Linked DNA regions of Homo sapiens: all the other regions are reported to be linked to region 2. Evidence: microRNA targets listed by miRTarBase, many of them from high-throughput screens and not tested one by one. Region 2 holds a microRNA gene; each other region holds the end of a gene's coding sequence.
What was found. Region 2 holds the annotated microRNA hsa-miR-4433b-3p (CAGGAGUGGGGGGUGGGACGU, at 1,681-1,701, opposite strand). A microRNA usually pairs through its seed, bases 2 to 8, with sites in the 3' UTR of a target mRNA and lowers its output. Matches are read on the target gene's strand: a 7mer-m8 pairs with bases 2 to 8, a 7mer-A1 pairs with bases 2 to 7 and ends in A, and an 8mer does both.

Region 1: the mRNA of UNK is a reported target of hsa-miR-4433b-3p. Seed matches in the 3' UTR shown: 7mer-m8 at 1,754-1,760.
Region 3: the mRNA of SNX11 is a reported target of hsa-miR-4433b-3p. Seed matches in the 3' UTR shown: 7mer-m8 at 1,696-1,702.
Region 4: miRTarBase lists SBNO1 as a target of hsa-miR-4433b-3p. The part of its 3' UTR that is shown has no 7-base or 8-base seed match.

What each region holds. Positions count from the first base shown.
Region 1 is chr17:75,823,871-75,826,870 of GRCh38, reverse strand. UNK (unk zinc finger) reads right to left here. Exons shown (of 16, transcript NM_001080419.3): 16 at 1,072-2,609. The coding sequence ends at 2,454. Among named protein-coding and RNA genes, the nearest start is that of UNC13D, 19 kb to the left of the region's middle.
Region 2 is chr2:64,339,089-64,342,192 of GRCh38, forward strand. It overlaps MIR4433B (microRNA 4433b), which reads right to left and starts at 1,760; the gene lies at 1,659-1,760. It overlaps MIR4433A (microRNA 4433a), which reads left to right and starts at 1,671; the gene lies at 1,671-1,751. It overlaps LOC105374768 (a long non-coding RNA gene), which reads right to left and starts at 2,621. Exons shown (of 3, transcript NR_189739.1): 1 at 2,447-2,621.
Region 3 is chr17:48,121,214-48,124,317 of GRCh38, reverse strand. SNX11 (sorting nexin 11) reads right to left here. Exons shown (of 7, transcript NM_013323.3): 7 at 717-3,083. The coding sequence ends at 2,810. Among named protein-coding and RNA genes, the nearest start is that of SNX11, 15 kb to the right of the region's middle.
Region 4 is chr12:123,293,417-123,296,520 of GRCh38, forward strand. SBNO1 (strawberry notch homolog 1) reads right to left here. Exons shown (of 32, transcript NM_001167856.3): 32 at 1-2,634. The coding sequence ends at 2,492. Among named protein-coding and RNA genes, the nearest start is that of CDK2AP1, 23 kb to the left of the region's middle.

The DNA of each region.
Region 1 (3,000 bases), not on the chromosome of region 2:
ACCTGAGGCCTGGTCATCACGTCATCCTAGCTGTGTGACCCTGGTTCCATGTCGGAACCTCTGAGTCTGCACAAAATGAGGACAGGAGTCGAGGTTAGCTGAGATGACATCCAAGGCCCGAGACCATGCAAAGAGGATCCCACCAGGGTGTTTTCTCACCCCCCACCGCACAGCCTAGTTGAGGAGGTGGGAGGGAGGACGTACCTCTTAGGCCTCAGCCCCTCATCCCTCAGGGGCAGGGTAGGGTGAAGAAGGCAGAAGGCAGGACTTCCTCTGGGTCCTACCAGCAAATCATCCCAATGGGAAGGCACTGGGTTTTTTGTTTTTGTGATGGAGTCTCACTCTGTCGCCCAGCTGGAGTGCAATGGGGCAATCTCAGCTCACTGCAACCTCTGCGTCCCGGGTTCAAAGGATCCTCCTGCCTCAGCCTCCTGAGTAGCTGGAACTACAGGCATGTGCCACCACACCTGGCTAATTTTTGTATTTTTTTTTTTTTTAGTAGAGACGGGGTTTCACCATTTTGGCCAGGCTGGTCTCGAACTCCTGACCTCAAGTGATCTGCCCGCCTCGGCCTGTTTTTGTTTTTGAGATGGGATCTCACTCTGTCACCCAAGCTGGAGGCAGCTGTGCAATCATGGCTCACTGCCGCCTCGACCTCCTGGGCTCAAGTGATCCTCCCACCTCAGCCTCCCTAGTAGCTGGGACCACAGGCATGCGCCACCATGCCCAGTTGGGAAGACACTGTTCCTCTGAGAAACAGTTACGGGCCCTATTGCCAGTCACCGCTGACCACACAGCCCTAAAGAGTCCTAGGGCCTGGGGGGCCTCTGTGTCCAAGGCTAAGGGTCCCTGTGTCATCAACCGCTAGGCCTAGGTCGGAGAGCACTTGAACTGTCTTGGGGCCTGATGGGCCCAGGAAGTTTCCAGCCCTCTCCAGCTGCCTTACCACAGCTCAGGGGTGTGGGCAGCAGCCGTTTCCATGGCTGAGGCAAGGCTCCTGGCCCACCTCATAGTTCAGAGGCCCTCTTTTGGGACCCACTCCCCCTCACCCCCATGTAAACAAGCTACCACTGCAAGTTCATATTTTATTTCCAATAGGTTTGGAGCTTTGTTGATTTTTGCATTTTTGTAAAAAAGGAAAAAGTTTTCACTTAATTCATTGAAAGCCCTTTCGTGCTGAGCCCAAGGGGGAGCCTGGGCCAGGACCAGACCCTCTCAGCCCTCTTGTTCCTACCGCAGACACCCGGTGCTGGGGGTGCGGCTGCTCCCCTCCGCCCACTCTGCCCTCCCGCCCCTGCTGCATCTCTCTCTGTACAGAACAATTTTTAAAATGGAAGCTAAGACACAATATACACTGGACAGGCACACACACACGCACACAGGCGTCCGCCCAGAACAGGGCGGGACACCAGCTGCACTCAGAGAGCACCAAGGAATGCAAACGGAGCCCCTCCGGGTAGGAGGGCAGGGCCTGGGCCCCCTTGGTCCTCAGTCCTCAGTCCGCACTCCTCCCCGCCAATTGCCCTGCTAGCTGCCAGAGAGGGGAGGGGGCAGGGAGAGCTGGGGGCAGCTGGTTGGGGGCGGTGGTCATAGAATGAGTACCAGCCTGGTAGGCGGCCCTGGGGCCAGGGAGGCTCTTGTGGGGAGTCCGGGGAGGGGCGGCGGGGGGAAGGACTGAGGGTGGACCCTCAGGAACCTGAGGGCTGGAACTCCTGGGCCTTGCCCCTCAAGGAGCTTCAAGGGCCCAGGTGTCAGGAGTGGGGCTGGCCCTGCAGCACTGGCCTCCAGCCCTTGCTGTTCTCCCCAAGACTAAATTAACATTTGGTAAACTTAGGAGCTAAGCCAGCTGAGACCCCCAGCACTCCCCCTCGGGCCTCCCTGAGGCCCTCACAGCTGGGGGCCAGGCCTGCTCTGGGGGACCCACGTCTTCCACACTCCACCCTTGCCCTGGCAAGGAGGTAGGGGGAGCAGGGCCTGCCCTGAGGGCTTCTCCCTTCCCCTTAGTGCCTTCCAGTCCCACCCTTCCCTGCTCAGGCCCCAGGAAGAAGTTAAAAATAGTTAGTTCCTACATTAAAAAAGAGACAGAACCAGATTCTCTGCCAAAAGGCCAGTGGGAGAAGAGGGGATGTCATCTCTGCAGTGGGAAGGGCAGGGAGTGGGTAGGGGAGGACTGCAAAATAGTTTCTTCTTTTAAAAAGTGCTTGGTAAGTCTTTTAAAGTGTGTGTCTATATCTATGTACAGATATACACACAGACACTGTCCACACCACCACGCATACCTGCACACATACGGAAATGTATACATATACATACATACGGAAATGTATACATATACATAATCATATACATATACATACATACATACACATATATATATATATTCATATATATATATATACTTTAAAAAGTCCTAGGTGAGAAGATCTGGGCCAGGCTGGGCCAGGCCTGCAGGGTCACGACTGGAGGGTGTGGGCCCGGCCAGGCTGGCAGATGGGGCACTCGCTGCCCTCAGCGCAGAGCTCACACAGCGCAGCGTGTTGGCACGGCAGCACTGCCCGCTTCTGTTCCTGACACTTAAGGCATTTCACCGACTGCATGTGGAACACGGCCTGCAGGGAAAGGGGCATCGTGGTCACCATCCATGGGTCTGGCCCCAAGTTGAGCGAGGAGTTCCCTTGATCCTCACTGCAGCCCCTTGGGATGGGAAAACTGAGGTACCGAGCTCAACAGTGTGCTCCCAGACCCCTGTTGGCAGGTGAGAGAGCAGGCTGAGTCCACCTCTGCATGGGGCATGGCCAGGCTGCCACAAGACCCACCCCTCAGAGAGGCTTCGCCCAGTCTCATTTGACCTTGTAATCCCCAGATGGGGAAAATGAGGCCCAGAAAGGGCTGGGACATGCCCAGGGCCACACCCGGGGGCTTGGCTGCCCGAGAACAGAGGAAAGACAGCTCTTCCCACCATGCCACGTTGGCCCCGGGGACCCAGCAGGAGACCTGGGA
Region 2 (3,104 bases):
TTATCCCACAGCTGATTGTGGCTAGAGGGGGTGGGGCTGTTTTTAGCCCAGCTTGCAGCCTTACCCCCTGCTGCTTGCAGCACCATCAGAAGCATACCTGCTCCAAGAGAGAAAACAGACTTTGACCACAAAAGGACACATGCTTCTCTTTTGCATGTCCTCGGATGCCTACTTGGGATCGCATGGGTGCTGAGAAGATGCTGTTGATGGTTTGCCCTGGTTGTAGCTGCATTTCTAGGGGTGTGGCCTAAGCCAGGCAGTCGGGGTGAATAGGGCTTCTCCTTTCAGAGGTTCTTCCAAGAAGGGAAAATCGTGTGCCCATTGATTTTGTTTCCACCACAATCTTTGTCCAGGCCATCCATCACCTTTCCCCCTGAATCTACAACCCCTTCAGGGGTGTCTCTGTTCCCACCCTTCTCCTGTCCTATACAGTCTGCACTTGATGGCCCAGAGCAGCCTTCCTCTGACTGTTCTCATCAAGTGGCTATAACCACAGTGCTCACCCAAGGCACACTGGGGGAAATTCAAGCTTCTCCTGCCCTTTTCCTAAAATACTCATGACCACCAAACACTATTTATTCCAGTATATCTTGTGGAAGGGGGTGTTGCTGAGTATTAAGCAAAAAACTTTATTTTTGTATATTCAAACTTATGGAATAAGTTCAGGAAATACTGAGTTAAAAGGGTTAAAGTGTTGGTTTTTCAACTGCAGGACTTCTCAGACTCTTTGAGATGCTGATGTACACAAGGGGTATGGGCTGCATGTTTCTACATGCTGATTTGATATAGAACCCTAGATAGAGCATCTCGCAAGACCAGTGGTCCCTGGAACCCAGCTTAGAAAACACTGCCCCAAAGAAGTCTCCTGAGAAAAATGTATTGCTGTTGATCTTTCAGCCTTCGTCACTGCTATCCTTCCCCTAAAGGGCTTGCCTTCAGCCTCTCTACCCATCCTGGTTCCCCCAGTGCTTTGGAACCAGGACAGACACACTCTGCTCCTAATAAGCATTTCATAGTCAGCCCCAGCCCAGAGCTCTCCTTATCATTCATTCATTCATCAAATATTTTTTGAGCATTTACTTTCTTCCAGGAGCTGTGCTAAGAGATATAGTAGCAACCAAGGAACATTCCAGTAGGAAACAGACAGGTAAGTAGATGGGTTTAGTATAGTGTGAGAAGTACAATACAAACACACCCAAGGATAGATCCAGATTGAGTCTTGGACAGTCGGAAAGACTTCCAGGGGAAAAAAAATGGCATCTTTTCTTCATTTCCACACTTAGCAATTTTTCTATATTGGTTTGTCATTTATTCATTTAATCACCAATCATTTATTGTGGGCTGGGCACTGTGCAGAGATAGTAATCAGACTTGACTTGAGGACGATAAGAAATCACTGAAGGGATTTTAAGCAGAGAAAGGACATGATCTATTTACACTGGTAGATGTCACTTTGATTGTAGGAAAAGTGGACCGGCCAGGGCAAGGCTTGAGGCAGGAAGCCAGCTAGGAGACCACTGCATGAACCCACATAAAAATGAGGACCTGGGCTAGGGAAGTAGCAGGAAAAGTGGATTTTGACAGATATCTAGGACAGAGCCAACAGGACTTGGACAGCAATGGGATGTGGGGGAGTAAGAGGGAATAGTTTAGGATGATGTTCTTTCCCCCATCCTCCTTACGTCCCACCCCCCACTCCTGTTTCTGGTGAAATATTCAAACAGGAGTGGGGGTGGGACATAAGGAGGATAGGGAACACAGGATGAAGGGCAGGTTACAGGGGTCCACGTGCGAGGGGAAGATAATGTGTTCAGTTTTAGACATGCTGAGCTCATGATTCCAATTCCTTTGGACATTCCAGTGGAGATATCTGGCAGGCTGATTTTTCTCACGAGAGAAATCATGTCTGGAAATACAGATCTGAGAAGCAGCAGCAACATATGGGTGGCCACCAAAGCCGTGGACTCAGTCAGCACCATTAAGCCAGAGTGATGGGTGAGATGGGTGACAAGGGCCCCCCTTGCAGCAGGTGGGTGACAAAAGAAGAATCAGTGTTGCAGCATGGGAAGGACTGCCCAGAGAGAAAGGAAGTGAACCAGGAGAGGATCTAGAAAAAGGACACTGGGCAATGAGAGCTTGGAGCGGGCCTCTGCACCAGGGGAGGGGTGGCTTTGACTGGCAGATACACATGTCTAGTACACGTGGAGGGTATGAAAACTCCAGGGAAAGAGAGGGGCAGCAGGAGCTCCCTCTTTTTGTAAAACAGGCTTTCTCTTAGGCGTAGCCTTCTAACTGATCTGCCCCACTATCCTCAACCCACTCTCCACTTCATAGCCAGATAGGTCTTTTCAAAACACATCTCTGATCACATCACCGCCTCTCCCCCAGCTCTATTAAAAACCTTTGGATATTTCTATGGCTCTTAGCATGCAGACCAAACTCCTACCTGGCCTGGCCTCTACTTCCTTCTCCAGGTGCACCTTCTGCCAGACTCTCTTGCTCTCTCCCCTGCAGCCAGCTGGCTTCCATTCGGCCTCGCAGACTCGTTGCATGGGTGTTACATTGTTGCTGTCAGAGCCATGTCCACCCTTCCCATCCCGTGGTCCCCCGATCTGCTCTGTGTCACTGGGGGCTGTTCCAGGCTCCAGAGCCAACTGCCTTCCAGTAAAGTTCAGCCAATGGGGAGTGAGGGAGGGCAAAAGATATTGGAGGTGAAGGAAGGAGAAGCCAGAGTACTTCTCCTGCTTCTCTTTCTCAGGAGTCTCTTCTGTGGCTGCAGTTCCCACTACACAGCCATCTCTGTGTGATCCCTGCTACCCATCTTGGCAGGCCCTCTTTGTTCCAGCTTATCTTGTCTTAGGCTCCAGAAACTGTTTCTTTCCTTGTTCTCCAGCTTCCAGGGTGGTGCTATGGGTTGAATTGTGTCTCCCCTGCAAGTTCATGTGTTGAAGTTCTAACCCCCAGTACTTTAGAGTGTGACCTTATTTAGGGTTGTGGTCTTTATAGAGTAGCCGAATTAAAGTGAGGTCATTAGGGTGGACCCTAATCCAATATGAATGTTGTCCTTATAAAAAGGGGAAGTTTGGACAGAGATAGACACACAC
Region 3 (3,104 bases), not on the chromosome of region 2:
TTGACCCCGGGAGGTGGAGGTTGCAGTGAGCCGAGATTGTACCACTGCACTCCAGCCTGGGCAGCAAAGGCTGCCCATCTCAAAACAAACAAACAAACAAATAAAAAAACACACACAAAAACATTGAGCTCAGTTTCCTCAACGAAAAAAGGAGCATATACCTAACCTACCTTCCTTGCTAGGCACTGAGAAGGGCCAATAAAATTATGTTTATAAAACTTAGTATTTTAATGTAAGAAAACACCCCCCTCACACACAAACACATTTCCTCCCACCAAACAACCTCCACAAGCTTGGAATCAGTCATCCTGGGTAATGGATGACTAGATGTGGGCCATGGAGGTATCTGACAGAAGAAAGGTGACTACATCAGGACAGAACTTGACTCAAAACTAAATTCTAAACAAAATATTTTTATCCTACAAAACAGCTCAATGAGCCACTCCCCACAGCTAATCCTCCATCTTTCATAGAGGTCATCTGGCCACAGTGGCTAGACCTGGGCACACGCAGGGACAGAGCAAAACAGAAGAGGGGCCTATGGCACTATCTGGATGGAGAGGAAAACTCATGTGCGCTATTTTTCGGATGACCCTAGGCTTGTATTATTAGAAAAGTGCTTTCCTTCCTAGGACTTCTCCTTCCAAGGCCTATACTCAGTTAAGAGAGAGACTGAAAAGAGATGGTGCCTGGCCTTAGATTAACTGAGGTGCTGTTGTATGCATGCTGCTAATGGATCATTAAAAAAGCTGGGAGTCAGAAAAATCACATCCATGTCTTTGAATGGCTCCTGCTGTCCCAGCAGCCTAGCCGGCTGGCAGAACTAGCTGCTGAGCACCAACTCCAGGAAGAAAAGGAGCAAACAGAAGAAGGCCAACCCAGCTTGCTGTTTTTTTGGCTGAGTAGGGAATTGACACAGACCACCTCCAGCTCCTGTCTGGAAGTTTCGAGATCAGAGAGCTTCAGGCACAGCTGGGTTCACAGCTGCACCATTTGGAGCATTGGGCTCATTAATATTCATGAGCCATCCCCACCAATCGGCAGAGCGGATGCCATTAGCTTAGCATCTGTCGGGTTTTTGTGAGGGTTGCACATGGAGTTTTTTTCCCCTTTTAAATGAACTTCTTCTGACATTTTGGATTTGCCTCTGTAGGTTTTCTATCCTCGCCTTGCTCTGCTGCATCATATAAAGGAGAGACCCAGGGGAGGCGGGCAGGAAAGAGGGATGAATACCAGCCAGGGCTTTGCATCTGCCTGTTGACAAACTTTATTTCTCTTTCAGCACCTGGCACCTCAGACAGACTGCGAGGATGGAAGCAGCATCAGGTAAATTATACCTAACAAGGTTCACGCCCAGAACTGTGAGAAGAGTTGGATCCCAGCTCTTTGGAAGACAATCCTTCCTCCAGTGGTGAACTTGAGCTGCACACACAATGCAGGAGGGCTACAGAGCACAGTTCTGAAGCATTATTTCCACACTGATAAATTCATGATTTATGAAAGGAAATACTGCCAGCGCTCACTCCCTCCTTCTCTGCTACAGCTTGTTAGACACAAATTGCAACAACAATCTTAAATACTTGCATTTTATTTCAGGCCAAAGCCCCTCCACTCTGAACTAAATGCCATGACAGTCCCACAGCATAGGCTGGTAGTAAAAGAGCCCACAGACAGGGTAGGATAGCCAGAGGAGGGAGGAGTGGGCGACAGGGAGGGGAAGGATCACACACACAAACCTAAGAGTAGAGCAATGCAGAATGCCTGTGGCACTCGGCTCCTACCAGCTCTGGCTCTCAGTGGAGATGAAGAATGGCAGCAGGAGGACAGAATGCCTCATTGTCTGAAGGAGAGCGTGTTGTTTCTCATCTCCATCCCCAGAGCCCTCTCTTTCAGGCAGGCAGAAACAAAGCCCTTGCACCCCACTGCACTGCGCAACACAGCAGAGACGCTGGTGGCGGAAGCCCTGGAGGCAGGGAGCTGCTACCAAAGGAGAAGAAAAGGATTCCAAAAAGAAAGGAGCCCACTCTAACCCTGCGGAAAAGATGGCCACATGTCTGCTTTATAACCAGAAGAGACAGTAACAGCCCGGGACAGCCTTTCCCAAAATAAAGGCCCCTGGGCTGTTACTGTTCCCTCTGGCTGTGGCCAGCCACTTCTCTCTCATGCATGACCATGAGCTGTTGTGCAGGTCTCAGGCTCCACTCAGCCAGGCTAAGGTCTCGGGACATAAATCCCCAGCAGCAGGAGTCACAGCACCAGTTCCATTCAGTGGTATCAGTGAAAGAAAAAGCAAGGAGGTGGGAAAGTAAATATTCATCCCCCTGTCCATGCAAGGAGGTAGGCAAGAGGCCAGCCTCCCACAAACAAAGTGCTCTAGGGCTACAGCAAAAACTGAAGCCAGCCAAGATGGGGATACAACATAACCACTCCCAGTGGGATGATGTTCAATATGGCAGCTTAGAATTTGCCACATACGGGTCCCCAAAACTGGTCACCTGAGGAGATACTCCTGGTCCTACATACAAATGACCTGCAGAAACTCAGATCCCAGGAGAGTAATATAGGGTTCTGTTCAAAAGCAACAGCCCCTGTGTCTTATGTTTAACTTACAAACATCTGCACAGTATTTGTTCCCATGGAAGAGGCATAAGGGGCTGTAATGACTGACCTCTGTCAATCAGCCCAAGCAGAGGTGACTAGAAGACACTAAGCAGCCCAGCCTCCCACATACCTGCCCTGTGCCCAGTCCCACCTGAGTAAGTCTCCTGGCCCGCATCTTCTCTGACCATCTCAGAGCAGAACCCAGAGCTCACTTTTCCAAAACTGTTTCTAACTGACCAGGGTCCAAAGGCACAGCATGATCTCCTCCCACAGCCCTCCTCACAGACTGAAGAGTGGAGGTTCCCTCTTTGGGTCTTCCAAAATCACAGCATAATGGTGAGGAGAGGGGTGGGAGAGTGGGACTTTCCAAGGAAGGAACCTCAGAGTCAACAACTGGAGCCCACACTTCTAAATGGTCCTTTTCTTCACTGGGAGGCGGTGAGGGAGAGCTCCTCCTACCCGATCTTGGAAGAAAGCAGCAACTGGAAAAGAGTGGGAAAGGG
Region 4 (3,104 bases), not on the chromosome of region 2:
GCCAAACTAACTCGCTGATTTTTGCAAGACCACAGTGTAAAGGTCGGATGTCCACCTGAAGAAGGGGTGGGTGCAACTCTCTGGGTGCTGCACACACCATGACCAGCCTGGGCATGCAGCACCCCAGCTCCCATCCATTCACACTGGTTGCCTTTGTGAGGTCCATTTTGAGAGGGCTTTCAGAGGCCTTTTTAATGAGAAAAAAAAATAGCTGTTCTACAAAGAACCTAAGATACATACACTCCTATTTATCAAGATGGCTAGTCCAGAGCAAACATTACATCATAGGCCATGGGGGTTGTCACTTAGCTGCATGCTAAGAATCCTCATATGCTGCTTTGAAAACGCCATAAAAAACTAAGATGCCCTCATACACAGAAAAGAGGAGTTGGGCCAACAGCCTGCGAGAGAAGATCCTTCCCAACTCTGCCATTCTTACTGCAGGAGGGTTTGTAATGCTTCCCCACTTCCTCAGGTCCAGCGACTGCACCTCCACCACTGGAGTGGGGGACACTTCCATTGCTGATGGAAGCTGCCTACTGCTTTTAAAAACACACACATGAGCTGAGAAGTTCTGCTGAAGGTGGGGAGAGTGCTGCTCTTGGCTGCCAGCCGGGTCTAGCGGCCCTAACAAGGGAAACTGGCTGATACAAAATGGATCACTGCCTGAGATATATGAACTGGACTGAGGATAGAAGTTGCATCCGCTGGGCAAAATGTGCCAAAGAACAGAAAGTACTTTCAATTTATTCTTTTAGGCACCAAGAATAAATAAATCCTAAGAAAACTTACGGTAAGCTTGACATAACCAAACTCAGGCTAAAGGAGACACAAGAGGATGAACGCCCTAAGCTTTCAGCCAGGTTTGTCAGTTTTAACACACATCTCACCCAATTCTGCAAGAAGTTTACAAACAATTCAACTTAAAAAACATTCAGAAGTACTATCATTATACCCTTTCCCTCAATGCCATCTTACATTTTAGGGATAAGTTTTAAGCCAAACTATAAGGCTACCTGGAATGCTGAGACAACACACAAATTCTGCTGAGTCCCCGTCACAGACTACTTCTGAAGGTCACCAGTGAGGGCCTAAACAAGAGTCCACTTCTTGTTAGTATAATAACTTTTTATTTGACATCTACAAGATTTTGGCATCTTGCAGCTTTTTACCAGGTTTATACAATCTCGATTTTTCAATAGTGCAACCTGTGGAAGCAAAAAAAAAAAAAAAAAAAAAAAAAAAGAAAAAAAGAAAAGAAAGAAAAAGAAAGAAAAGATAAAAAGACCAACTGTCCCCTCACTTGTTTTTATAAACATCTATTATAGGCGAAACAAAACTTACCCATATTATATAGATAAGTGTCTATTCACATTTGTACATTACCATTTTTAACAGCTTGAGATAAACTCTACGTCTTACAACACATTAAACAATATTCAAGTTACTGAGTAACAACAATAACAACAATAACAAAAGAACACACAGCAGAAGCCTCAAGTGTTTCCTCATTGTCTACAACTCAGGTATGGTTTCCTTTTTATGAGTGACAAAGCAAATTAAGATAATGAAGTAAAAAACGATTGTTTGCAAGATGAAAGCCAATTTGTACTTCCTTCTAAAACTACCTTTAAGTTGCAAATGTAAATTTAAGAGGCTCATAGCCATTTCTGCAGCACACATTAGGAATACTATTAATACATTAAAATTAACTTTTAAGAGTTTTATCACAGAAAAATGTATGTATTCATTACCTTGACCAGAAACCCAGGGCAGGGAGAAGGGGAAGGAGGGGTCTGCAGGGTTTGAAGCAATACCCAGGTATAAACACTATAAAAATGCAATAACCAATGCTGTACATCTAACAAATGTTTCTCTCTGTTACTCGACTCCTGTGTTAATCTTGTTTCAGCATGCTTCCAAAGACATGCACTGTCAGAACAAAAATTAGAAAATAACCTGAATGCATGATATGCAACCTTTCATTTCATGCTTTAATAAACCTATTAAGTTGGAAAAAGAAACCAATATATATTTTCTATATTTATAGACTCAAAACACATGCATCCGGGGATACCTCCCACAGCAATGGCATGGATGTACTGCGTTAACCCTGAGCACTGTATAAACATAAAGTAAAGCCAGTTTGGGAAGTTCCAAGCATTTTAAACCAACTGTGGTCTGTAGCCTTTAACACACTCACAAACAGACTGACACACACGCACACACACATCCCCCTCTGCTCACCCGAAGTAAAAGCAGATGGGAATTATCAGGGGAGAAGCTAAAGGAAAGACATATGTACCACCATCAGCACTGCTGATTTTCAGTTTTGCTATCTATTCCAGGTTTGTCCTTACTCCCAAAAAAACTAACTAGAGAGCACAACTGAAAAAAATATATAATTCTTTGGAAACTGTCCCTGATTTTTATGCAAATGATATGCTTCAACAGCATTTCAGATCCATCCATGTTGAAACCTGTCTGTTCTTCATGCGTTGCTCAAGTTGGTGATGCTCTGAGGGTGATGCTGTTGCCATAGCTGTTTCTGTTGGACCGCAAGCTGTTGAGACTGGTCTGAAGTTGATAGGAGATTTACAAGAGGAGACACACAATTTGCCGGAATGATCAAACCTGTAATTAGTAACAAGAATTTATCAAGTTGTGTCCAGAAGAAACCACACTGTACAGCTTCACAGCAGATTCCAAATGAGGCATAATATTAAGCGTAATGGACAAGAAGTTCACACAAAAATTAAACGACTACCTAATAAATGAAATGGCCATTGAGATGTAGTCTGATTCTTCCACAGCATTTCCCACAAATACCCAAGCATATGCATGTGTTTAGTGTAATGCTATCTTGTTGGAGGAATAGGAAGTCAAGAATATCTATTATTCTCTTTTTAACAGGAGGTTAAGAATATCTATTATTCTATGTATTATCTTTTAATGCACCAAAAGACTACAGAACAGAAGTTGCAAATTCAAATGCTAACCGAAACAGGTTAACTTAGAAGAGCAGATACTAGCAAACTGGAAAGGATACTCTCTGGGTGCTGGTTAAGGGAACTTTAAGTCCTGCATGTAGGATTGAAGGCTCA